Regions from separate parts of the Homo sapiens genome. Here all the other regions are linked to region 1. The links come from fine-mapping of genetic effects on gene expression. A gene starts in region 1. Each other region holds a variant in brackets. All regions are shown on one strand. Distances are from middle to middle.

Region 1 (8,185 bases):
TAATAGCCAAAACAATGGGGAAAATGTCTCCAGAGCCTGTCAGAGGTCTCCACAGCAGCCCCTCCCATCACAGGCCCAGAGACCTAGGAGAAAAAATGGTTTCATGGGCTGGGCCCAGGGCCTTGCTGCTTTGTGCAATCTTGGGACTTGGTGCCCTGAGTCACAGCCATGGCTAAAAGGGGACAACGTAGAGCTCAGGCCATTGCTTCAGAGGGTGCGAGCCCCAAGCCTTGGTGGCTTCCACATGGTGTTGGGACTACGGGTGCACAGAAGTCAAGAATTGAGGTTTGGGAACCTCCACCTAGATTTCAAAGGTTGTATCAAAATGTCTGGATGTCTAGGCAAAGATGTGCTTCGGGGCAGAGCCCTCATGGAGAACCTCTGCTAGGGCAGTGTGGAAGGGAAATATGGGGTGGGAGCCCCCCACACAGAATTCCCACTGGGGCACTGCCTAGTGGAGCTGTGAGAAGAGGGCCACTGTTCTCCAGACCTCAGAATGGTAAATCCACTGAGAGCATGCACCATGCACCCAGAAAAGCTGCAGACACTCAATGCCCACCCATGAAAGCAGCCGGAATGGGGGCTGTACTGTGCCAGGTCACAGGGACAGAGCTGCCCAAGACCATAGGATCCCACCTCTTGCATCAGCGTGACCTGGATGTGAGACATGGAGTCAAAGGAGATCATTTTGGAACTTTAAGGTTTAATGACTGCCCTATTAGAATCTGGACTTGCAAGGGGCCTATAGCCCCTTTGTTTTGGCCAATTTCTGCTATTTCGAATGGTTATATTTACCCAATGCCTGGACCCCCATTGTATCTGGGAAGTACCTAACTTGCTTTTGATTTTATATGCTTGTAGGCAGAAGGGACTTGCCTGGTCTCAAATGAGACTTTGAACTGTGGACTTCTGAGTTAATGCTGAAATGAGTTAAGACTTTGGGGGACTGTTGGGAAGGTATGATTGGTTTTGAAATGTGAGGACATGAGATCTGGGAGGGGCTGGGGTAGAATGATATGGTTTGGCTGCATCCCCACGCAAATCTCACATTAAATTGATGAGATCCCATAATTCCCATATGTCATGGGAGGGATCTGGTGATAGGTAATTGAATCATGGGAGTGGGTCTTTCCTGTGCTGCTCTCATGATAGTGAATAAGTCTCATGAGATCTGATGGTTTTATAAAGGGGAGTTCCCCTGCACACACTCTCTTTCCTGCCACCATGTAAGATGTGACTTTGCTCCGCCTTTGCCTTCTGCCATGATTGTAAGGCTTCCTCAGCCATGTGAAACTGTGAGTCAATTAAACTTCTTTTGAAATATAAATTACCCAGTCTCGAGTATGTCTTTATTAGCAGCGTGAGAACAGACTAATATACTATGTTCTATGATAGATAAGAGATATAAAAGACATATTTATTAAATTTGCAAATGACACAAAAAGAATGGTTAACAGAATGTATAAAAGATTCAAATGCAAAACTATCTCCATAGATTAATGAGTTGAGATAAAAAAGAATCAGCTACATAATTAGAGGATGGGAGAGACCAACCTTAGTCAAAATCCATACAGGGTATTTTAGTGTGAGCCAATAGTTGGACATGACTGTCAAAATGCTTATGGAAGCTTAGGCTGAATGGATGAAAATATTGTGCCAAGAATTATGGAAAGGAGATAATGGTTTCATGGACTGTTCAGACCATAACTGGAATATTGCTTTAAACAAAATGGAAAGAGGGGATGACTGGAGATATTCAATAACTGCAGACATCAATAAAGGGTGATAGGCCAGGCGTGGTGGCTCACGCCTATAATCATAGCACTTTGGGAGGCAGAGGTGGGTGGATTACTGGAGGTCAGGAGGTCAAGACCAGCCTGGCCACCATGGTGAAACCCCATCCCTACTAAAAATACAAAATTAGCCAGGCATGGTAGCAGGGACCTGTAATCCCAGCTACTCGGGAGGCTGAGGCAGGAGAATCGCTTGAACCCAGGAGGCAGAAGCTGCAGTGAGCCAAGATGGCGCCATTGCACTCCAGCCTGGGCAAAAAGAGTGAAACTCCGTCTTGAAAAAAAAGTAATTAAAAAAAAAAGGGTGACAGATTTGGTGAAAATCTTGGAAACCATCTTATGCATCATGAGTAACTCAAATTTTGAAAACTGAATCATGACTTCCCATTGACTCTGAGGCTTTCATAACTTAAGTCTCAGCCAATAGTTCAACTGCAGAAAAGTGCCTTTCATCCGATTTTGGTCACATACATTCATCTTCTAAGTTCTCATTTAGTATCTTCATCTCTCATTATGGTTTTCAATGATAAATTTTAGTGTTCATATTTCAGTTCCCCAAAAAGACGGTAAACTCTGAGGCGTGGGAGATCAAAAGCCAGGCAGTTGTCAGAATCTTGCCAGTGTAAATTGACTTTAACCTAACAGAAATGATTCTTTTGGCATCACATTTGGGTGCCTCTATTTCCTCTAATCATAAATCTTTCTTCTACTCATTTCTTCATAGTAAAACCAAGAAGTCTGTGCTATCACTCCAACAGCACCAAGAACAGATATACTAGTGCAATATTATACACATAATAGGGGCTCCATTAATGCTTGCCAAATGAATAAAGACTGTTCCTATAAATTTTTTTTGAAAAAAAAAATCGTCTAGATGCAGTAAAGCTTTTTAATTTGCCAAAGAACAGAATACCTACCTAATAAAATAACTCTCAAATTCAATATTCTATAGAAATACAATCTACCAATCTGTTATAGAGGAGTTTTATCTCATGTAATATGCAGGAATTTGAAACCAAAAGTTGGTGCAACAATAGAAAATTTGAAAATAAATTCTGCAACTGTGCCATAACTTACTTTACATTCCTCTTTCCAGTCTCTAGATGTTGATATGCTAATGGAGATGTAATACAGTTACTGCTCTAATTTAAACCAGATACTTAAAATTGAAGAAGCTGCCTACTTGTTGAAGCTATTACCCTAATACTAGTAAAAATAATTGACCATTAGATCTAAAAGGGGCCTTGGATATTATCTGGTACATTTATCTCACAGATCAGTAAACAAATGAAACTTTATTCTAAAGTTCACAAAGACAATTAATTGCTAGGCCCGATTTTTAGTCCAGTCCTTTTCAAATGTGGTTTTGACTTGCATACGGACAAGGATGATGGTAAAAGACAGGAAACATTTCAAGTCCTAGGAGAAATGAGATTTTCTCCACTACTTTCTTTGCTCCCCACAGATTTAAGTAAGTTCTAAGAAGTCCCTACAGATGGGAGTAACTGAAGTGCTTCCTTTGCACGTTTTTGAGATTTGGAGAATTTAAGAGGTTCTAAGACCTATGTAAAATTTCAACTCAATTACATATTTTTTGGTTCATTATCTATCCACCAATTCTTCCTTCCATTTAAACCATTAGATCTGAAAAAGTCCTTAGAAACTGCCTAATAGTGGTAGATATTTCGTTTCACTGATCAAAAACCTGAGGCTCAAAAGCAAATGTAAATTTATATTTCATAAAAATCTTGGGGGAAAAGTCCTATCCTATCCCATTAGAGAGGGAGTAGTGCAGTTAGAAATACAACACCGAACTCCTGAAACCAAACATCAAGTATCCTTAAACAAGATAATAGAATTGTGATTTTTTTCTTTTCAACATGAAACTTCATACTATGCTGTATATCACATATAATTAAATTACACAATAATCACATACCGTATTAATAAGAGGTTAAGTGTAATATAATAAAATGGTCATCTCACAGCGCCAGACTGCCCTCTCTGTAAAACTGTGAGATGCTGAATACCTAGATATTTCGACCTTTTCTCTAACAAGTTATCCTCCAAGGCTACTTCATCGAGGCAAAAATACATTTTATTTATTATTAAAAATTCCAGTATATGTATGCTTAATTAATACTGAGTATTCCCCATTCTTGTTTCAAGTGATAGTCTTTGCTTATCCACATACCTAGGAGGCTGGGGAGGCTCCTTCAAGTCACTGGGTATGAGGTTATAAATGCACTCAGAAGAGCACGTTGGATCCATGGCCACCAAATGACTCCTTAAAAGCTACTCTCCACAACTTTTTTCTCCCTGTCCCAGTATCTCCGTCCCTTTCTTCACTGCTTCCCCTTTCTTTCTTCTTCGCCTTCTGAAGGACCACAGGTTCTCTCCTTCACATCGTCCCCCTTTAACCCCCTCTTAGCAGTCCTCTCTCGGGAAGAAAACACCCTATTTCTCTCCGGATTGCTAAGCGTCGTTGACTGTGCGGTTGCCGTGGAAACCGTTACTAGGCAACGAGGAAGTGGCAGGCAGCACCGCAAACTAGGTCTCCCCTCTTCCCTCTTTCTGCAGCGCCTTCTGCTAGAGAAGCTCATTTGGAAGCCACTGTTTTTACGTGCCTTTGAAAGTTAACGGGGTGAAAATGATGTCCCCTTAAAAACTGTGCTCTTTTCTATTTCTGTGTATCTGGGGAAAAAAGAAAAATCCTAGTAGAGACGGCAAAGCGCAGCTGGTGCGCAGGCGTCACCCAATAAGGTTTTTGTGAGCAGGCCCCAATCGCGGTGTGGGCGGAGCGAGCGGCTGAGACCACGAGGACGCAAGGCCAGCGCCGCCAGGGAGACGAGGGAGGGGAGGAGCCTGAGGAGATCGGAGTGCTCGGATAGGCTACAGTGAGAAAGGAGAGTCACGTGCCCTGCGCGAGGCCGCTCGGGGAAGGGCGTGGAGCGGAGGCACGCTGGCCGCCGCAGGCACAGGCGCAGAGTCCACTGCGCGGGGGCGGGACCGGGGAGCTAGCTGCAGGTACGGTGCTCCGTCTCCTGTGGAGGCTTTAGCGGCTCGTGGACACTGCTCCCCCATTTCCTTTCATTTCCCCCGTCTTCTCAGTGAGATTTCCTTGGTGAGTTATTGGAGGAGAAAGGAAGGAAAACTAGAAGCCAGCCCGCTCCCATCGCATGCCTTTCCCCGTACCGTCCCTTCCCCTTTCCGCTACTCGCTGGTCATCTCAACTCTGCGCGCATTTTTCCTGCTGCTTCTGGTCGAGGCTCCTCGGAACGCCGCGCAGCCCTGCCCGCCACGTGTGTGAGTGCGCGCACGGGGCCCGCGGCCTCCTCCGCCTGCTGCGCTCGCCCTCCCGCCCCTGCTCCCGGGACCGCCCCTTGGGCGGTCCTCCGGGTCGGCTCTGCGCCTGCTCTTCCCCGGGTCGGGACTCTTCCTCTAGGTCGTTCTCCAGGAACCAGTGGACCTGCTCTTTGTAAATGAGCAGCCTAAACTAAGAGGAGAAGCCTTTTAAGTGGGCCTTTACGTTTTTGTCCAGTTTTTGGTGTCCCTTGTTGGAAAATTGTCTTCTGAGAAGCGGTTTTATTCCTTTTTGTTCCACCTGGTCACCCGTAAATCTATGCACATGGGCCTGCCGTAGGAAAGTCATTTAGACGCTTTTACCCGAGTGTTTAAAAGACATTTTGGTAATAGGATTTGGGGAGGAAGATGGATGCCTCTGAACCACCGGTACAGAGGCCACTCTGCCCGAAGGAAATAAAGCTTCCCGGAGAGGAGAGAAAACACACTTGAGTCTGGGTTTCTCACTGCCTGGTTGGCTGGCGGAGTGATTAAAACAACACAATGGCCTGGTGAACCTTTTAGTTCCTGTATAAAAAGGCTTTACTGAATGTGTAGGTCCTTACTTTGGGCTCTTACTGAATTTCACTACATAAGAATACGTTAAGTTTTTCTTTTTTTTTTTTTTGTATACAGTTGATTTTAATTTTTGTCCCAGACGCTTAGGGAAAATTCTCCAGATTTCTTCACATCAGATTGTCTTCCAAAACATTTTAGATAGATGGATCTGTAGATCTATATTTAGATCTAGATCCAAATCTATATCACTTTGCCCCTTTCTTTTCGCCCTTGAGTATTTTATGTTTGGGATTTCTGTTTAGCAAGTATAGAGAAAAAATTTGGCGGGAAACCTCCTGTATGTACGAAGATTCGAACCAAGGACTCATGGAATGATAACGCCATTAGCCAAGTGGATAGTCACTGGCTAAAGCTTATGAATTTTCTAATTAGAAGGAACACCTTGAGACTATTTGTGTTAATCAGTTCCTGAAATAGCAAGTAAGGGCAAAACATGATTTCTGCAGTTAGCACCAACTGGCCTTTGGTAGCCTTGATGTTCTGGGGTTACTGAAATAAAATAATTTCACTGATGTCTGTATATTTATTATGCTTTAAAAAATGCTAAACAATTTGTGCAAGACCTCACTGTGGTATAGTTAGTTTACAGCCATGAGCAGGTTGTTAAATCATTTGGAAAAAAACTTTTCTTTTTTCTTAGACATTTGATCTGCAATTCTCCTTGCCTTTTGAAAGTGTGTTTAAGCAAAATTATTTCTAGTTTTTATAATGCTCTTGAAATGACACTTCAAAAAAATGCCTGTGTCCACCGCATGTCCACAGGGAATTAACTGGTATATACCTACAGGGATGAACAAACTGTCTATAAAGGGGTAGACAGTAAATATTTCAGGCCTTTTTAGGCCAAGTGGTTATGTTGCAACTACTCAGTTTTGCCATTGTAGCTCAAAAGCAGCCAAAGACGGTACTGAACAAATATGTGAGCACATGAATGACTGAAGTTGTGCTTCAAAGAAACTTGATTTATGAAAATGATGGTGGGCCAGATTTAGCCTGTGGATTGTAGTTTGCACAGATCCTAGATCCCCGTATATAATGGTATGCCTGTGATGTACATAAACAAATGAGAGTTGTTTTTTTTTTTTTTTTTTTTGCGAAGGATTATTTTAATCTATTTAAATGAATAAAATGGGTGTAGATGAGTATATAAGACAATTGGAAGGTAAATAAACCCTTTATAAAGACAGGTTCTTTATAATTCTCAAAGTTATAGAATTGTGGATACTAAAGTTTTCAATTAAATATTCGAGATCGTTAAGAATATGTCTAACAGCAGAAGTCTAACGGCAGAAAAAGCTTAGTCAGCTTTGATAGTAATATAAAGACTAAGTGATGAACTTGCAAAATTGTTTTAGTTGTGAGATCCTTGTGATTACAGAACTATACTGGATTGTGTGGTCCTTCCACCCTCACCTCTGTTTCATGGCAAGTGGGAGGCCCTCTGAATGAAAAGTTTGAGAGAATTTTTGGTCAGAAGTCAGAAGCAGTAGAGCTTAACCTCCTTTTGGCTAGTTTGTGTCCTGATACACAGTTAGTTCTCCATATCTGTGAATTTCCCATTCTCAGATTCAACTAATTACAGATTGAAAATATTTTAAAATTTTAGTTGGGCACAGTGGCTCATACCTGCAATCCAAGCACTTTTTGAAGGCCAAGGCAGGAAGACTGCTTGAGCCCAGGAGTTGGAGACCAGCCTGGGCAACATGGCGAAACCCCCTCTCTACTAAAAATACTAAAATTAGCTGGGTGTGGTGGTGCGTGCCTTTAGTCCCAGCTACTTGGGAGGCTGAGGTGGGAGGATTGCTTGAGCCTAGGAAGTCAAGGCTGTAGTGAGCCAAGATTGTGCCACTGCACTCCTGCCTGGGCAACAGAGTGGGAGCCTGTCTGAAAAACAAACAAAAACACGAAAATAATGGAACAGTAAAAATACCACAAACAAAAAAGCAAATTAGTACAACAGCTCTGTACCTAGCATTTGCATTGTATTATGTATTATAAGTTATTCAGAGATTAAGGTATACAGGAGGATGTGCACAGGTTATATGCAAATACTACACCATTTTATATAAAGGACTTGCACATCTGCAGATTTTTCTCACTCTAAAGTCAGTCCTATTAACTGCTAATTATCCAATATCCCTCTCAATGCTTAATCCAAATAATTGTTAAACACATGAAAGAGAAGAGTGTCAAGACCAAAAGCCTTGGAGTGCACTACCAGAAATTTCCCTCTATTCAACAGAACCATTTTTATGATCATTCAACAATATCCTCAAATCTTTTTTTTCCATTTCTCCGTGAATTAAAAAAATTTTAAATGAACCATGTGTAATGCTTTGGTGAAGTCCATATATATGCCTTCTATGTATATTCCCGAGTGGCCATTGCAGCAGACGTTCTCAAAAAAGAAATGAGGATGTCTTTTCCTCATTTGGTTGGTTAAAAAATGTTGAGCCCCTAAAATCAATTTG
Region 2 (8,185 bases), 29 kb before region 1:
GCTAAAGTAATCAGAATATTTTTGCATTGCTACTGATTTTGAATTATTTAAAAATGAGTATGTATAGCAATCATTTCACAAATAAAATACTTACCTAAACATCTCATCCTGAATTGGCAGAGAAAGACTGCCTGGATCAACAGAGTCACCAGACAAAAGGAGACTGGGTCCCTGAGTGACTGCATGGAACAGACTTATACCCCTACCCTTAGTCACATTGCACAGTGATGTAAATGAAAAATGTATCTTTATCAGGAAACTGAGATTTGGAGTTAGTTTGTTAAAGCAACTTAAGTTGCTTACTTAGCGATGCAAACGGGAATGATATGCATCATTTCTAGGCCTGGCCTGTACGTGCCTCTCCCTAACTCTGGATCAGATGCATCCTACCCACTCTGTAAGTCTGGGTCCCTGAGTGACTGCAGAAAAGGGTTCCTGCTGACCTGCTCACAGCAAAGTACTGCTATGTTAGCAAGAATTGAATATGTGTTTACGTAATTATACATTTTGGAGTGTACTGTCACAGCTGTTAGCCTACCCTAAATAGCAACCAACCATTCTTGGTAAGTGAGAATTTGTCATATATTATCCTTTATTTTATATCTGCCCTAAGTTAATAAAGGAATAAAGATACTCATATGGACAAGTTTCAAGTGAATTTTCAAAAAATAATTGTATATAAACTACTTTTCTTTAAGTAACCAAAATAAGCTTTTCTATAAGGCTTCCAAATTCTGTGTTTGTGAAAAAAGCCTGAAAGACTCCCATATTTTGTTTTTTATGTTGTCCAGAGGATAAAAACCAGTGTAAGCAGTAGAAATTGTTATTTCTCTGATATTTTATAGTTGCATATATTTTACCAAATTTTTCTAATTTAAAATTTCATAAAATAACCTTTTCCTTTTAGATATTTAGAGCTATTTTTTCTTATTTTTGGGTTGAAAACAGCTCTACTAACATAAACTTATTGCTTAATAGATTATGTAATCTTACAAATGTAACTTTAGAATTCACAAAATAGATAAGTAGAAAGGACCAAAAGGAAAAAAACATTTAAATAAGATATGCATAGTGAGTTGTGGAATAAAATAAGAGTATCGAGGTTGGTATGCTAGAAAGGAGGCTATTCTCCTTAATCATCCTCAATGATGCCTTTATAAGTTGTCATCTTGATTTTGTAAGTTGTCTTCTTAATTTTTCTTCCTCCAAATAGAAGCCTTTCATCATATACAGTGTTACGAATACTGAAAATATTTCTCACTGGGAATAACTGCAAATGTCATGGGCCACAGGAAAATACATCTTTTGCATTTGTGGAGCTCAGAAACAATGTGTTGGAGACAGTTTAGAGTAGCAAGAAGGCACGTGTTACTATTTCCAGTTCAAAATACTTAACAGTTTTCAAAGTTGTGCTGTTGGTATCATGCGCTGCAGAAAAAAAAAAAAAAAAGTGAAGTTCTGAGTGCTGACTTTATTTTTCAGGACCTAGAAATTAATGTTTATGTGAAACAAGTACATAATAATAATGAATTACATTGTGGAACTGGAACACATATTCTCAAATTTAATAGTTTATATGTGGAAAACGTGACACTAGTAAAAACAAAATTTCTTCTTGTGTAAGTGAATAACTCAATTATTCTTTGCATATTGCCTAAGCATTCTGATTAAGACTATTTTTATTCTCTTCATAGTATTTTCCTTTTTGAAAAACTTGGAGTTTTTTATATTTTCCATGTTTTTTTCCCCTACATTGAAATTGTTATACTTTAAAGATCCATTCTTACTTATTGGCAATATAAATAATCTTGTGCTTTTCAATTATGCCAATGTCGTGTTCTAGTTGTTTCATTTCTTCTTCCAGCCTCTGCTTGCGGATCTTCTTTGGTATAGAATCTATAAAGACCGAGAGGGACTGGAATTCTTTATGCACCTCTTCCCAGTTCTTTTTCAGCCCCTGCAAATGGTCAAGAAACTTGTAAATACCAAAGCAAACTGCAAAAGTAAAGGAAATGGGAAAAGCTAATTGGTAATGAAAAATGTCAATAAGTAAAAGAAACTGACAAAAATAACTTCTAAAATGAAATGTATTTATCAAGTACTTGGCCACGGTAACCAAAAATACTGTACAGAGGCCAAATCCCATCCTTGACTGTGTGCTCAGTTCCCACTGGGAGTATTTGTTTGCTCTGCTTTTGTTGTTACTGTACTTGTTTTTACCATCAAAAATGTACACGCAGAGTTATGAGTAGTGTGAAGCTAAAGCTCACAGCAAATGCATGGGTAAAAAACAACTTAGAATGATATCCTCGAGTCAAAAACATTTTTGAACAGAAAATTGTTTTGTAAAATTTTATTTTTTATCCTCATTCTTCAACAGACAAATCACATAAAAGACCTAATTCTGATGTGGATGGCTATATTTTCTTATATCTAACAAATGGGATTGTAAAATTGCCAAAATTCACTTGTACAAAAGATGATCTTCTAAGTGTCCTTTCAATATATTAGAAAGAACCAATTGCCCTCCATATAGTCAAGGGATCTACAGTTCCCATTAATGTATTCTATAAATGATTGAAAGGTCATTAAATGTAACACACATGCTAATTCAATAATGTAGCTAACAGTTTCTATTCTCAGAAATCAACAAATTCAAAATTAGGGATCTCTTAGGAGCAATAAAAGTTATTTCTGTTTCTGCATAATTATCATTTTTTTATCACAGTGCCCTATGGGCTCCACAGACAAAATGGTCTTAAACTAGTAATTAAATTAATTCAATGAAATTTTATAAGTCAACACTTTTTAATTATTCATTATGGGCACATAGATTATTTTATTTACACAAAAGCAAAACAGAAAGTGCAATTTAAGATACTGCCTTGACAGGTGAATTGCTTGAGCCCAGGAGTTCGAGACCAGTGTGGGCAACATGGCAAAACCCTGTCGCTACAAAAAATACAAAAAATAGCCAGGTGTGGTAGCATGGGCCTGTAGTCCCAGCTACCTGAGAGGCTGAGGTGGGAGGATCACCTGAGCTCAGGAGGTTGAGGCTGCAGTGAGCGATGATTGCGCCACTGCACTCCAGCCTGAAACAACAGAGCAGAGACCCTGCCTGAAAACAAAAACAAAACCAAAACTCCAAAACTTAAAATACTGCCTTGAAAACATGGTCTTTGAAAACTATGGCCATACATTTAGGTGTAAAAGAGGATTACAAGTGTCTTATATAATTATGCTGTCATAGTAAGCTCTTGTACAAATTTAATCTTGTAGAAACTTTCAGGGACAATACAATTTCACTGATTTATTTCCATGCTTAGATAAAAGGGATGATGACAGGTCAGGGCACACTGTATAGAAGAGGTTGGTTGGGGAAAAGGGCAACAAATTATGAGGCCTTCTTGAGTGAGCTAAGGATCTGGGAAAGGGAAAGGATAGAAGAAAAAGTATCCAGGTTAAATTTTAAAAAGAGGAGGCTACACAGTTCTTGACAGTGTATGCGATGTATTCCAAAAAGAAGCCCTCAAAAGAATTCTATTTCTCCACAGCCTTTCATTATGAAATGTGAAAGAGGTTCCCACAGTGCTCCACAGGAGTGGCTATTGCAGAGAGGAAGTCTATGTATTTGTACATTTGCGGATATCAAAGGTTTTTCATAGCTAGTTGGGTGATGTTTCCATATTACTTGCAGTCACAGCAGCTACAGTTTTTCTCTGTATTTTCTTTTAAAGGATAGTTTGCTTTTATCTTCCAGTGTGTACAATAACGTTTGGATCAAAGTCAACAGCCAGGGATGGAAACTAAATGTAGCTAATATTTCATATTATATTGAAATACGCTACGTGCTGACTTTAAGAGGTTTTTTCATTATTTCATCTAAAAAGATACTTCATGTGTTGCAGCAATAGTGATTTTCCCTTATTGTTAATTCTTAATTTTCCTCTCTTCTATTTTAAAGCTGAAATAATATCGTTCATTTTGGAAAAAATTCAGACAGGGAGAAGTGATCTTATAATAAGAAGTTTTCAGTTTCATGCTCCTTTTGCACCCTCGCCCACCCCCAAACATTCTCCACCTTGTGGGGTGCTCCCAGCTCTTTCGCCCTCTGGCCTGAGTTCAGCCACAGAAGGCCCTGGAGGGTGGAGAGTGAGGTTGGGGCATTTCTCCTCCTCTCCTAGGACAGTCTAGACATGG[G/A]TTCTAGCTGCATTCATCTGTGACTATGACCCTCAGCCCAGCTCCAGCTCTCACTGGATTCTGACAACACTGCTTCTTGTGCCTGCTGCCTTTCAAGCGTAGGTGGTGGTAAATTCCTACTGTCCCTGCTCCTGGGGTGCCTCAGTGCTTCTTGTTGGTTCCCTTAACCCTACTTCACTTCTGTCAATAATTCCTTCATAAATTCTCTTCAGTGGCCACTGCTCATGCCTGCAATCCCAACACTTTGAGAGGCTGAGGGAGGAGGATTGCTTGAGGCCAGGAATTTGAGACCAGCCTGGGCAACATAGTCAGACTCCCTCTCTAAAAATAAAAAAATGAAATAAAAAAAAATCAGCCAGGCATGGTGGTATCCCAGCTAGCAGTGAGCCGTGATTGTGCCACTGCACTCCAGCCTAGGCAACAGAGCAAGACTGTCTCAAATAAATACATAAAATAAACAAACATAAATTCTCTTCCAAGTCCTAGCTGAGTGTGCCTTCGATTTCCTGCTGGAGCCCTGACTGAAGTAGCCTCCCTTTGTTACCTCCTCTGCAAGTATGTGTTCTGTAGTGGGGGAAACACCAGCCTGGCAATTGGTAAATGAGTTTTAGTCCCTATTGATGTACTTGATAGTTTTGTGACCAAAGAGAAATGAAAATCAAACTCTAAGTTCACTGACACTGAGGACTGTGTTTATTTTGCTCTGTACAGTATCCCTCTGGCTGGAACACACTAGATATTCAATAAATAAATGAATGAACAAAGGGGCCCACAATGTATTTGTATTAACGGCTGGGCAGATTGGCTCACGCCTGTAATCCTAGCACTTTGGGAAGCCAAGGCGGGTGGATCACCTGAGGCCAGGAGTTTAAGACCAGCCTGGGCAACACAGCGAAACCCCATCTTTACTAAAAAATACAAAAAAATTAGGTGGGCGTGGTGGTGCATGCCTGTAGTTTCAGCTACTCGGGAGGCTGAGGCATGAGAATCATTTGAACTTGAGAGGTGGAGGTTGCAATGAGCCAAGATCATGCCACTGCACTTCAGCCTGGGTGACAGAGCAAGACTTCATCTCAAAAAAAAATGTATATATATATATATATGTGTATATATATATTTATATATATGTGTATATATATTTATATATGTATATATATTTATATGTGTGTATATATATTTATATATGTGTATATATATATTTATATATGTGTATATATATTTATATATGTATATATGTGTATATATTTATATATGTGTATATATATTTATATATAAGTAAAATTTATTTTTTATATTGTACATATGTTATATATAATTTATTTATATATAAAATACGTATAAATAGAGAATTTTGCAATTTAATTGGTGAGAGGAACTACGGATCTATGTACATGTAGAGATATGAATGTGTGTCTGTGTGCAGCTCCTCAGTTTCATAAGGTTCCAATGCACTAGTCACCACTGGAGGATTATAGATCTTTAGCTGGCCTGAAAATGTAGAGTGACACAGCATATGTATATATATATATATATATATATATATATATATATATATATATATATATATATATATATATATTCCTCATTTTAAAAATGAGAAGTTTGGAATCACTAGACCAGATGATCCTGTCCAGGTATAATGAGACTGTTATTTTATGAAGAATGAGCAGAATGTGGCTTACTCAGGGACATACAACCAGATTGTCATCGAACTACATGCAACTCTTGCCTAGGGAAGGAAGTGTGGCTCAGGGCTCGTCAGGAGGCCAGCCGGTGGCTTTGTTACTATGGCAGCTCTGCTCCCTGGCTCATAAGGCGTCCAGTGGATGATTTGCTATCATCACATCAAAGGGTAACTCTGTAGCGACCGTAATGGGAAGCTGAGGGCTGCTTATCTCCTACAGCCAAAAAGACACAGAAGGGAAGGACCTGTCACTTCTAAGTTCTTTGTCATATTCTTATTTTTCAGCATCATTTAGGTGTAAAAACCTGGCTTTCACAAAGGCACGTACTTTCTGAAAATGGGAAAATCCAAATGAGAGAGACAGAATGGGCCACAGACGAGAACTCTCCCTGAAAATGACATGCCAATTCTCACTTCCATGTCTGCCAGCCTTCCTTCCTGCCTGTCTGCCTTCCTCCTTTGCAGCAGACCATTTCTGAACATCTGCGTTTTCACTGGGCACTGTGCTAGGCACTGGGGATGCTGCTGTCAGCAAAGAGACACCGTCCTTGCCTTTGAGCCACTCCTACTGTCTGGGACATGCCGTCACTCTACATTTTCAGGCCCAGCTAACGATCTACAATCCTCCAGGGGTGACTAGTGCCTTGGAACCTTATGAAACTTAAGAGCTGCACACATACACATATTCACATCTATACATGTACATAGATCCATAGTACCTCTCACTAATTAAATTGCACAATACTCCACTGCAGATATTTTAAAAAATCTTATGCCTTTTAAAATATCCTCAGGGTTTAGCATTTAAGAAATGTTTATTGATGATTATGATGACATTGATAAAATGTTCAGAAGTTGTAACAGCATATGAATCCATTTTTCAACAGAGATTAATAATAAACTAGAAATGGCTTCGTGGGATGCTTTCAAAATGAAAAATAAACAAAGAATTAAGTATTATTTCTGCCTCTATAAGAGACAGTATGACTATAAAAAGTACAAAGAGGTGTTTAATTAAACGCTCATACAAATGATGAAGCAGAAACTCTTACACCCCCTAATATTTTAAATGCTTCAGATAAAAGCCCTGCATTAAAAAATCCAATATAAATATATCTTTAAGTCTATGTAATTAAAAACAAGAAAAACATATGTGAAACCTAGCACCTGTTTATTTAAAATTTTGGACATTTGCCTTATAGGAAAGGAAAAAAAGTTGTTTTAAGGACAGTTTCAATTATTCTAGAGCTCCATCTAGTGAAAAATATCTAATTTATGAATATTATTTTTCACAAACTCAGGGGCATAAAAATGAAAATAAAAATGCTTTATTTGCTTCATTTCATGCATGTTCGTTGTAGAGGAAGGTAGGCTTCCTTACAACACTAGTTCAGGAAAAAAACAGTTCACCAAATTGGAAATAAAATATTATTAAATGAATCCCTATATCACAACTTTTTGCTCTCTCCAAAGAGTCAGCTTTGCTGTATGTAGTTTTTAACTGTAACCCAAAGAGATTGTTCTGATTTCAAAATCCAAGTGCTGACTTTAATCATCAAAGTGATGGTACACCTTTCTTTCAGAGATGATCCAAAGAGTTACAGATGAATGTAAATGGCAGAACACACACCTGCAAAACTGCCTCCCTTTCTTCATCGGAGAGCCTTTTCATAGCTGCTTTCTTAAGGTTTTCCTGGATATAACGATCATAGTCTTCTTGGGCTTTCTTTATTTCCTCGTTTCGCTTACATATGTATTCAGGTGTGACACCATAATCCTAAAAAGATTTTGCAGAAAAAAGTAATCAATATTTTGTATGCAATCTTACATATGGGTACGTATCAACTGATGATGGAAGAAAAAGAAATGGTACAGACTAAATCCTTTGTTCAAAACCCTGTAAATTGACAAAATTCAGTGACTTTTTTCCCTCCATTGAGAGCTAGTAGATTCCTGCCTTTTAAAATGGAGTTGTTATTGCCCAGGCATAGTGGCTCACACCTGTAATCCCAGCACTTTGGGAGGCTGAGGGGTGGGGGGGTGGATCACTTGAGGTCAGGAGTTCGAGACCAGCCTGGCCAACATGGTGAAACCCCGTCTCTACTAAAAATACAGAAATTAGCCAGGCATCGTGGCATGTGCCAGTAGTCCCAGCTATTCGGGTGGCTGAGGCACAAAAATCTCTTGAATCTGGGAGGCAGAGGTTACAGTGAGCCAAGGTGCCACTGCACTCCAGCCTGGGTGTCAGAGTGTGACTCCATCTCTAAATACATAAATAAATGGAGTTGTTATTGCAGTTGC
Region 3 (8,185 bases), 49 kb after region 1:
CAGTCACCCGCTCTGTCTTCATGCTCCGTGGTGAACAATCTCCATAAGAAGTTCATAGGTGTTGGACACGTGTGGCCAGGCCCTGGGCTTTGAAATCGACCCTGGTTTGCAGCTATATGGTTGATGCTGCCAGACACATCCAGATATGGAAAATCAACTTTATCCCAGGCTTTCTTGTGCCGCTCCTCCAGCCGCCTGCTCTGTTGGGTGCAGCTCCTTCTGTTCCATTTTGCTTCATGGGCTCTGGAAGGAGGAGTAACAGTGCACAGATGGCAAGGTGGAACCTCCCAACACAAACTGAATCTCTTCCTCCTTCTGCTCCTCATTGCCTGAGCCTACTGTTCTCCCCCGCCACCACCATTTCTATTTTCAGGAAAAAAAGGAAAAAACTTTGGTGATCTACAAGCTTTGGGTGACTTTTCCTTTGAGCAGGATAACCAGAGCAGCTAGGTGATTTTCCAAATGCTGGCTATGGCTAAACCCAGTCTCAAACAAAATCGGAAAATCAACATGTTTCTCTTCAGATTTTCCAACAACCCCTTTCTTCATCTCTCTCCAACCTACAAGCTGCCCTTCTCCACCTGACATCCCAGTAGTGGGTGACTTCCAGCAGCTGGAGGCACTTCCCACCTTCCCCAGACCTAGGCCTGCACATTCTTCTCTCCCTTCATCTCTGTCTCTTCAGTCTGAGAAGTTAGTCTGAGGCGTGACTGCTGCATCATCAATGACTGCGTTAGAAACCCCAGCGATTCACTGCTATGTTCTTTATATGTAGGATAGTTACTGGCACATGGAAGGCACCCAATATGTATTTGCTGAGTCAGACTGCAAAAGTGTGCAACTGGCTGAGACTCTTGGGGGTATTTGCACAGAGAAATAACGTAACGATAACGACTACTAGCTAACTGCCATTTACTAGTCACTTTACACAGTCTAAAAGCAGGATCTCGACATTTCTAACAGCTTGATGACCTCATATTTAATGTGGTTTTGTACAGAAATTTCCCTGGAACCCCACACATGACATTGTTTGGAGCGACTCCTTCCTTGCTTACCTATAAGCCTAATCCTGCGTATTGAGTCATTCTCTTCTTGAGCAAGTAGGACTTGTTGCTCTCTTGTCACTTTTCCACCAGTGTTCCTCTCTTAAGGGAGAGAAAAAGTTAAACATGCCTGCTTTTCAGTGTCTATAGACGATTGTGGAATGTTTGAGGAAAACCTTGGACTTTTTCACAGCCACTCCCTGTCTGGGCAGCCTCGGGTCAGCCTCCTCCTGCAGTTTTTCTTTCTGTTTTTCCCCTCTGTGTGTCCCTCCTAAGAATGTGGTCCTATTTCCTGGAGCAGGAGCCTGTCTGCAGGCATGGCTGGGAAGGAAGCCCTGGCCATGAGCTGGGCTGATGGCACCTCTGGAGCTGGCTTTCCGGCAGCTGGTGACACAGCGGGTCTGGCCTCATTCATTACTAATTGTTGACGCTGTGTTCGGAGGAACGTGTTAGTAACAGCACGTACCTTGATCAGCCACACTCAGGCCTGGGTGGAGGAGATAGGTGGTGACTCACACAGTGGTGGAAGAGGGCCTGGTCACCTGGGCTGCCCGAAAATGACAGGAAAGGCAGGGCCAGGAAAGGAAATCCCCCTGCACATCACCTCCCTCCCCTTCCCACTGCATGCTCCACCCCTGCACCACAGGCACTTGCTTCTCACTCCTCTGTGTTTTTTTGTGGTTTTTTTTTTTGTTTTTTTTTTTTTTCAGATGGAGTCTTGCTCTGTTGCCCAGGCTGGAGTGCAGTGGCGCAATCTTGGCTCACTGCAACCTCCGCCTCCCGGGTTCAAGCTATTCTCCTGGCTCAGCCTCCCAAGGAGCTGGGACTACAGATGTGCGCCACCACACCTGGCTATTTTTTTTGTATTTTAGTAGAGATGGGTTTCACCACGTTGGCCAGAATGGTCTCGATCTCCTGACCTTGTGATCTTCCTGCCTCAGCCTCCCAAAGTGCTGGGATTACAGGCATGAGCCACTGTGTCTGGTCTTTTTTTTTTTTAAGAGTCTCACTCTGCTGCCCAGGCTGGAGTGTAGTGGCATCATCATAGCTCACTGCAGTCTCAAACTCCTGGACTCAAGAAATCCTCTTGCCTCAGCCTCCTGAATAGCTGGAACTACAGGTGTGTTCACCATGCCTGACTAAGTACTTAAAAAATTTTTTGTAGAGATGCGGTCTCACTATGTTGCCTAGGCTGGTCTCAAACTCCTGACTTCAAGCCATCCTCCCATCTCAGCCTCCCACAGCAATGGGATCACAGGTGTGAGCCAGCATGCCTGGCTCCTGTGTTTTTACTTGTCATTCCCTGTGCTTATAATGCTCCTCCCTCAAATCTGTATTGGTTTAGTCTTCCTTGTGCATCAAAGCCCCATTCAAATATTTTCTCCCCTTTGAGACTTTCTCCTGTTCCCCCTTGCAATTGAGAAGCCCTTTGTGCAAAACCACACTCTGTAGACAATTACTAAATTGAGTCATAGTTGCTCTGATGTGTCCCAGTTGCCAGCAGATTTGGACTACTTGAGGACCGGGGCTCTCCCGTGTCCATCTTTGTTCCCACTTTACCTAACCAGGAGCTGCCAATAACAGACACTCACTAAATGTTCATGGGCAGATTGTGGAATGAGGCAGGCACACTCTGCAAGGGACAAGTGACACCGGCTCAATAGGTCGGACGTGCGCAGATGGTTTGAGAGCAAAGTCTGTAACTCTGGAGTGTTTTCCATCTTCAAGCCCCCTCAAAATCTATTTGCTCTTCCCAGAAAGATTCTTGCCATATATTTGGTGGTTGGAGTGGTCTTGTCACCGGCCTTCAAGAACACTGATTATTGTTTGAAGGGTACACCGCCATTGAAAGAGTAGCTGATTTCCTCAGCCACCGTGCGTGTGTCAATAAGATTTTATAAAGTACCTGTCTCAGTGCTCAGCTTTATAAGAAATGAAGTGGAGGATTCAAAAGGGGTAGAAGACATAGACTCCACTCCTGTAGACCACAAAGCCTCGTCCAAAAGAGAACATGGCTGAAATGAGAACATGTGAATCACCAATGGTAGACCTGTGGTGGCAAGGGGAGAATCACTCAATGTTTTCAAATAAAGAAATTCCTGCTTGTCATTTCCCTGGCTCTTTCTATATGAACTTGTTCATGTTCGAAACAGCTTGACTGAAAATCAGTACTTGCAGTTAAGAACACTTTATTTTTAAGTTTTTTTGAACTTTATTTTTTATTTTTGTAGAGATAAGGGGTCTCCCTGTGTTGCTAGGCTGGTCTCGAACTCCTGGGCTCAAGAGATCCTCCCAGCACAGCCTCCCAAAGTGCTGGGATGACAGGTATGAGCCACTGCACCCATCATTGCTCTTAATTCAGATTGAGGTGTTGATTCACGGGGCAAGATGGAATGGCATGAAGGAAACTCAGTGGGAAGGATGAAACAGAGGCAGAGAATGGTTAAGAGATTCTTGTTGTAGTTCAGCCAGGAGGCTACAGGGACTAGACTAGGCTACAGGGACTAGACTAGGCTGTCATAGGGAGAGAAATAGAAGGAGTGGCCCAGATAACTGGTTGCAACCTCTCCTAACTCCCAAAGAAGGAGGGAAGGGTAAAATTTTGCCAGGATAAAGAGAGGATGACCAAAGAAACAGAGCTCCAAAGAAGGGA[C/CT]TTTTTTTTTTTTAAAAAATCACTGAAGGCTACCATTATATTTGATTTATTTTTATTTTATTTTACTTTTTGAGACAGTGTCTCACTCTGTCACCCAGGCTGGTGTGCAGTGGTGCAATCATGGCTCACTGCAACCTCTGCCTCCCGAGTTCAAGCAATTCTCATGACTCAGCCTCCCAAGTAGCTGGGATTACTGGCAGCTGTCACCACACCTGGCTAATTTTTGTATTTTTAGTAGAGATGGGGTTTTACCATTTGGCCTTGAACTCCTGACCTCAGGTGATCCATCCGCCTCGGCCTCCGAAAGTGCTGGGATTACAGCCATTAGCCACCGTGCCTGGCCCTTTCATTCTTCAAGTAAGAATCGTTTTACACTGACTTCCTCTCTGTCTGGGGCTGGGGATTTGTATAGGAGGCGGTGATGTGGTTTGCATCTGTGTCCCCACCCAAATCTCATGTTGAATTGTAATCCCCAGTGTTGAAGTTTGGGCCTGGTGGGAGGTGACTGGCTCATGGGGTGAATTTGTCATGAATGCTTTAGCACCATCCTCCTTGGTACTGTCCTTGCAACAGTGAGTGAGTTCTCGTGAGATTTGGTGATCTTAAAGTGTGTGGCCCCTCCCACCTCTCTCACTCCTGCTCCCTCCATGTAGGACACTTACTCCTCCTTTGCCTTCCACCATTATTGGAAGCTTCCTGAGGCCTTCCCAGAAGCAGAAGCTGTTATGCTTCCTGTGCAGCCTGCAGGACCGTGAGCCAATTAAACCTCTTTTCTTTATAAATTACCCCATCTCAGATATTTCTTCATAGTAACACAGAAACAGACTAATACAGGTAGTAAGGAGGAAACAAATTCCACAGGAAAACTGTACTTCTGCTTGAAATCTCAACTGCCCCTAGTTTTGCATCTGTGTCTTCTTAGTCCTGGAAGAAATTTGATCCCTAGGCCCTTGTTCTGCTCTCTGCCCTTGAGTTCCATCCACAAGTCCCTACTCTACTCTCCACAGGAAGAGGCTACTGAACTTGATGTTGGAATTGATCCTAATGTACAGACCTAACCCTCAGAGAAAGTTTGACCCACCCGTGGGGAGATGGAGTCATGACTCCAGAAGATTCTCCAGCACGCTCCTTCCCTGGGGTTGTAAGGGTGCCTGAAAGTGGAAGCTCATAGATTCTTAGAGTTGAAAGGCCCATGTGCAGGGCATCTTCTTCAGTCCCCACCCTGTATAGGAATCTCTTCCTTAACATCCTTGCCAGGCAGCAACAACCTCAGCCAAACATTACCAGGAACAAGGTTAGACAGAGCAGGGACCCCCCATAGGGGCCTGCCAGTCACCCCAACAATCTTCCCAAGCATGGAAAGAAAGAAAAATTTAGAGTTCATTCAAGGGAAGTTCCAGGAACCTAGCTAGCCTTGAGAAGTAGATGAGGAACTTTATAATCGAGAAGATTTGCTGAGTATGTAAACCTGAACATCCTGCACATGTACCTGGGAACTCAAAATTTTTAAAAAAAGATTATATCAACCCTCTGTCAGAAGACATCATGAAAAAAAATACAAAACATTTAAAAAGGTAATAGCTTAAAACAATCACCAAGGAAGTTAGAGTCACAAAATGTTTTGTGACTATAGAAACTATAGAAACTAAAGACGACATCTTAACATGCGTCCCTGAGCTGTTTTTCAGAAACCCAGACGCCACCGAATGGAAAATACCATCTGCTAGAATGTAGACCTCAGAGAAGGGGAAGCTGAGGACTGAACTCTGACCGCCATTCTTTATCTAAATTTCTTCCTGGGGTCCTGGAGGAGGTCACACCCACGAGCCAGAGCTAACATTCTTTTCTGCTGGCCCCAAATTTTTAGAGAAAGCTTCAGCTCCTTAACCAATCTCAAATCAGAAAATCTTCTAATCTGGCCGGGCGTGGTGGCTCATGCCTGTAATCCCAGCACTTTGGGAGACCGAGGTGGTGGATCACCTGAGGTCAGGAGTTCGAGACCAGCCTGGCCAACATGGTGAAACCCCGTTTCTACTAAAAATACAAAAGTGGCCAGGCATGGTGGTGTGCTTCTGTTATCCCAGCTACTTGGGAGGCTGAGGTAGGAGACTCACTTGAACCCAGGAGGCAGAGGTTGCAGTGAGCCAAGATCGCATCATTGTACTCCAGTCTGGGCAAAAAGAGTGAAACTCGTCTCAAAGTAAAATAAAATATCTTCTAATCTACCCCAGCATACCTGCTTTGAGATGTTCCCCCTTTTTAGGTCAAACCAATATGTCGCCTTCATGTATTGATTTATGGCTTTGCTTGTCACCTCTGGCTCCCCACCTTTGAAGTCCCTTACCTGTAAACTGTCAGGGAATTCACATCTTAACCACATGCTGTCAATTCTCCTTCCTGGGCATCCTGCAATAAATCTCCCACTTTCTCTTGCTGCAATCCTGATGTGAGTATTGGCTTTGCAGAGCCCAGTGCGTGGACCCAAGGTTGGTTCAGTAACAAAGGAAATCAGGACCATTTAGGCCACTGTTGGACATTCCCAAGACCAGAAAATTCTTTATTTTAAGCTAAAATCCAATTTGAAATGAATTGACATTATGAAAAATTTATTTATTTTATTGCAATATTTTGCCCTAAAAAAAAATAATTTTAGATTGCACTGAAAGGCACATAATATTTTAGAAAGCTCCAGGCATGGTGGCTCATGCCTGTAATCCCAGCACTTTGGGAGGCTGAAGCAAGCAGATCACTTGAGGTCGGGAGTTCAAGACCACCCTGGCCAACATGGTAAAACCCTGTCTCTACTAACAAAAATACAAAAATTAGCTGGGCATGGTGGCGAGCGCCTGTAGTTCCAGCTATTCTGGAGGTTAAGGCAGGAGAATCACTTGAACCCATAGGCGGAGGTTGCAGTGAGCCAAGATTGTGTCATTGCACTCCAGCCTGGACAAGAGAGCGAGACTCTATTTCCAAAAAAATATATTTTAGAAAGGGATGAGGGAGTTCATAATCCTCCTGAAATTATGTAATTATGTACAAAAGTATGTATATGCGTATGTGCTCTTCGTTTTTTCTTTTTTCTGCATATTGGGTCCAGAGCTTTCATGGGACACCTAAGGGTCCTCAGTGATTCTGTGCTATCCCAGAAGTGTGATGTTGAGTTGAAGGTGTCACACTTAAACAAAATACAGACAGGCCACATCTCACTCAGGGGGAGGCATCCTGGCTCCATCAGCTTGCCCAGGGTGGCAGGGTCTTCTCTTTAGCCCAGAATAAGTACCCTTTCCCAATCAGAGCCCAGTGAATGTGCCATCTGTCTCAAGCCCAGCCACATAAAATCATGATGCTACCCGGGGCCTTTGTTTCGGGTAGTGCTCTTATTTTTCAGGGTGGCAGCCTGTCTGCGCCTTGACTCCTCTACGTCAGCACTGCTCAGCTATGGAAAAGTCATGAGGGATAATGGTGGTGTTTGTAGAGCCAGCATGTGTCATGTGGGTTTTCAGACAAAGGGATACAGAGACTCATGCTTTACTAACTCATCATCTGCATACCCATTCGGGAAGAGGAAATGACTGGGGCCACATCACTCCAAGCTTGTCTCTACTTGTCCTTGTGACGAGTATCTCACGCACACAAAGGGACACTTTTTTCTCTTGTTTTCACTAGCAAGTCCTATGTAGGGATGACATCATCTCTGTGCTGATTTACTTTAAAATACTTTCGTGCAATCGACACCCTAGGAGGAGGGAGGAAGGAGGAGGTATTTGAAGTACCCTAATCAGACATCCACGTTCCAAGAGTTGTTAGTTAGCATTTGAAACATCCTAATTAGGGATCCACACTTAGGAGGGGGTTACTTAGCACTTCAAATATTGTTATTGAAATCTACCCCACAAACGGTGTGTTCATTAGCATAAGAGATGGTGGAAGTAAAAATTTCCCTGGTGGAATGGTAGCTTTCAAGGGATGATTTTGACTGGAAAGAGTGTGCTTCCCACCACCCCAGCTGGAACAAGGTTTAAGAATGCAGCAAGCCAAAGACAATACTCCCATAGACAAACTACAGGTACAGAGCCCCATGCTTCCTGAGGCCCCTACATCCCCCCTTTCATACTGTATGTAGGACTCTGTTGTCCTGTCTTTAAAATATGGTGGCATTCCATTGCAGTGTACATTTTTATGTGCATTTTCAGTGCAAGGTGCTTACCAGAGTGTCCAGGATCAGAGAGCAGGACTAGACATCAACAGGTGAATGAGAGTTTCTGTGCCTGCTCACTAAGTCTTGCTTTCACCAGCTAATAAATGCTGAAACCTAGTGAGTAGTGACTACCTGTCACTAACTGCTGTTTAGTCCCCTGTTCAATGGAATGGTTAAACTGGCAACACCAGGTCTCAAAGAAAATCAAAGATAAATAAACTAGAGCCTTAGCATATAAATATCCTCAAGTTTCTCCTGTACAATTTAAGATCTTTCAAGAAGGCCAGGCAC

What was found. PIP is the estimated chance that this variant, and not a neighbour inherited with it, causes the effect.
Region 2: its variant is fine-mapped to the expression of THNSL1 in esophagus mucosa (GTEx, PIP 0.92).
Region 3: its variant is fine-mapped to the expression of THNSL1 in lymphoblastoid cells (TwinsUK, PIP 0.95).

What each region holds. Positions count from the first base shown.
Region 1 is chr10:25,011,873-25,020,057 of GRCh38, forward strand. It overlaps THNSL1 (threonine synthase like 1), which reads left to right and starts at 4,740. Exons shown (of 3, transcript NM_024838.5): 1 at 4,740-4,820. ENKUR (enkurin, TRPC channel interacting protein) reads right to left here and starts at 4,286. Exons shown (of 6, transcript NM_145010.4): 1 at 3,988-4,286. The coding sequence starts at 4,064. RefSeq lists silencers at 4,292-4,341, 4,672-4,871, 5,052-5,131 and enhancers at 4,415-5,177, 4,488-4,782, 5,382-5,461.
Region 2 is chr10:24,982,949-24,991,133 of GRCh38, forward strand. ENKUR (enkurin, TRPC channel interacting protein) reads right to left here. Exons shown (of 6, transcript NM_145010.4): 4 at 7,515-7,661; 5 at 1,788-1,957; 6 at 1-1,428. The coding sequence ends at 1,422. It also overlaps a transcript of THNSL1 not described here. Among named protein-coding and RNA genes, the nearest start is that of ENKUR, 29 kb to the right of the region's middle. The variant G/A (reference allele first, on the strand shown) is at 4,201.
Region 3 is chr10:25,061,127-25,069,311 of GRCh38, forward strand. It overlaps a transcript of ENKUR not described here. Among named protein-coding and RNA genes, the nearest start is that of LINC01516, 48 kb to the right of the region's middle. RefSeq lists enhancers at 591-1,790, 6,627-7,186, 6,804-8,003, 7,187-7,745. The variant C/CT (reference allele first, on the strand shown) is at 3,697.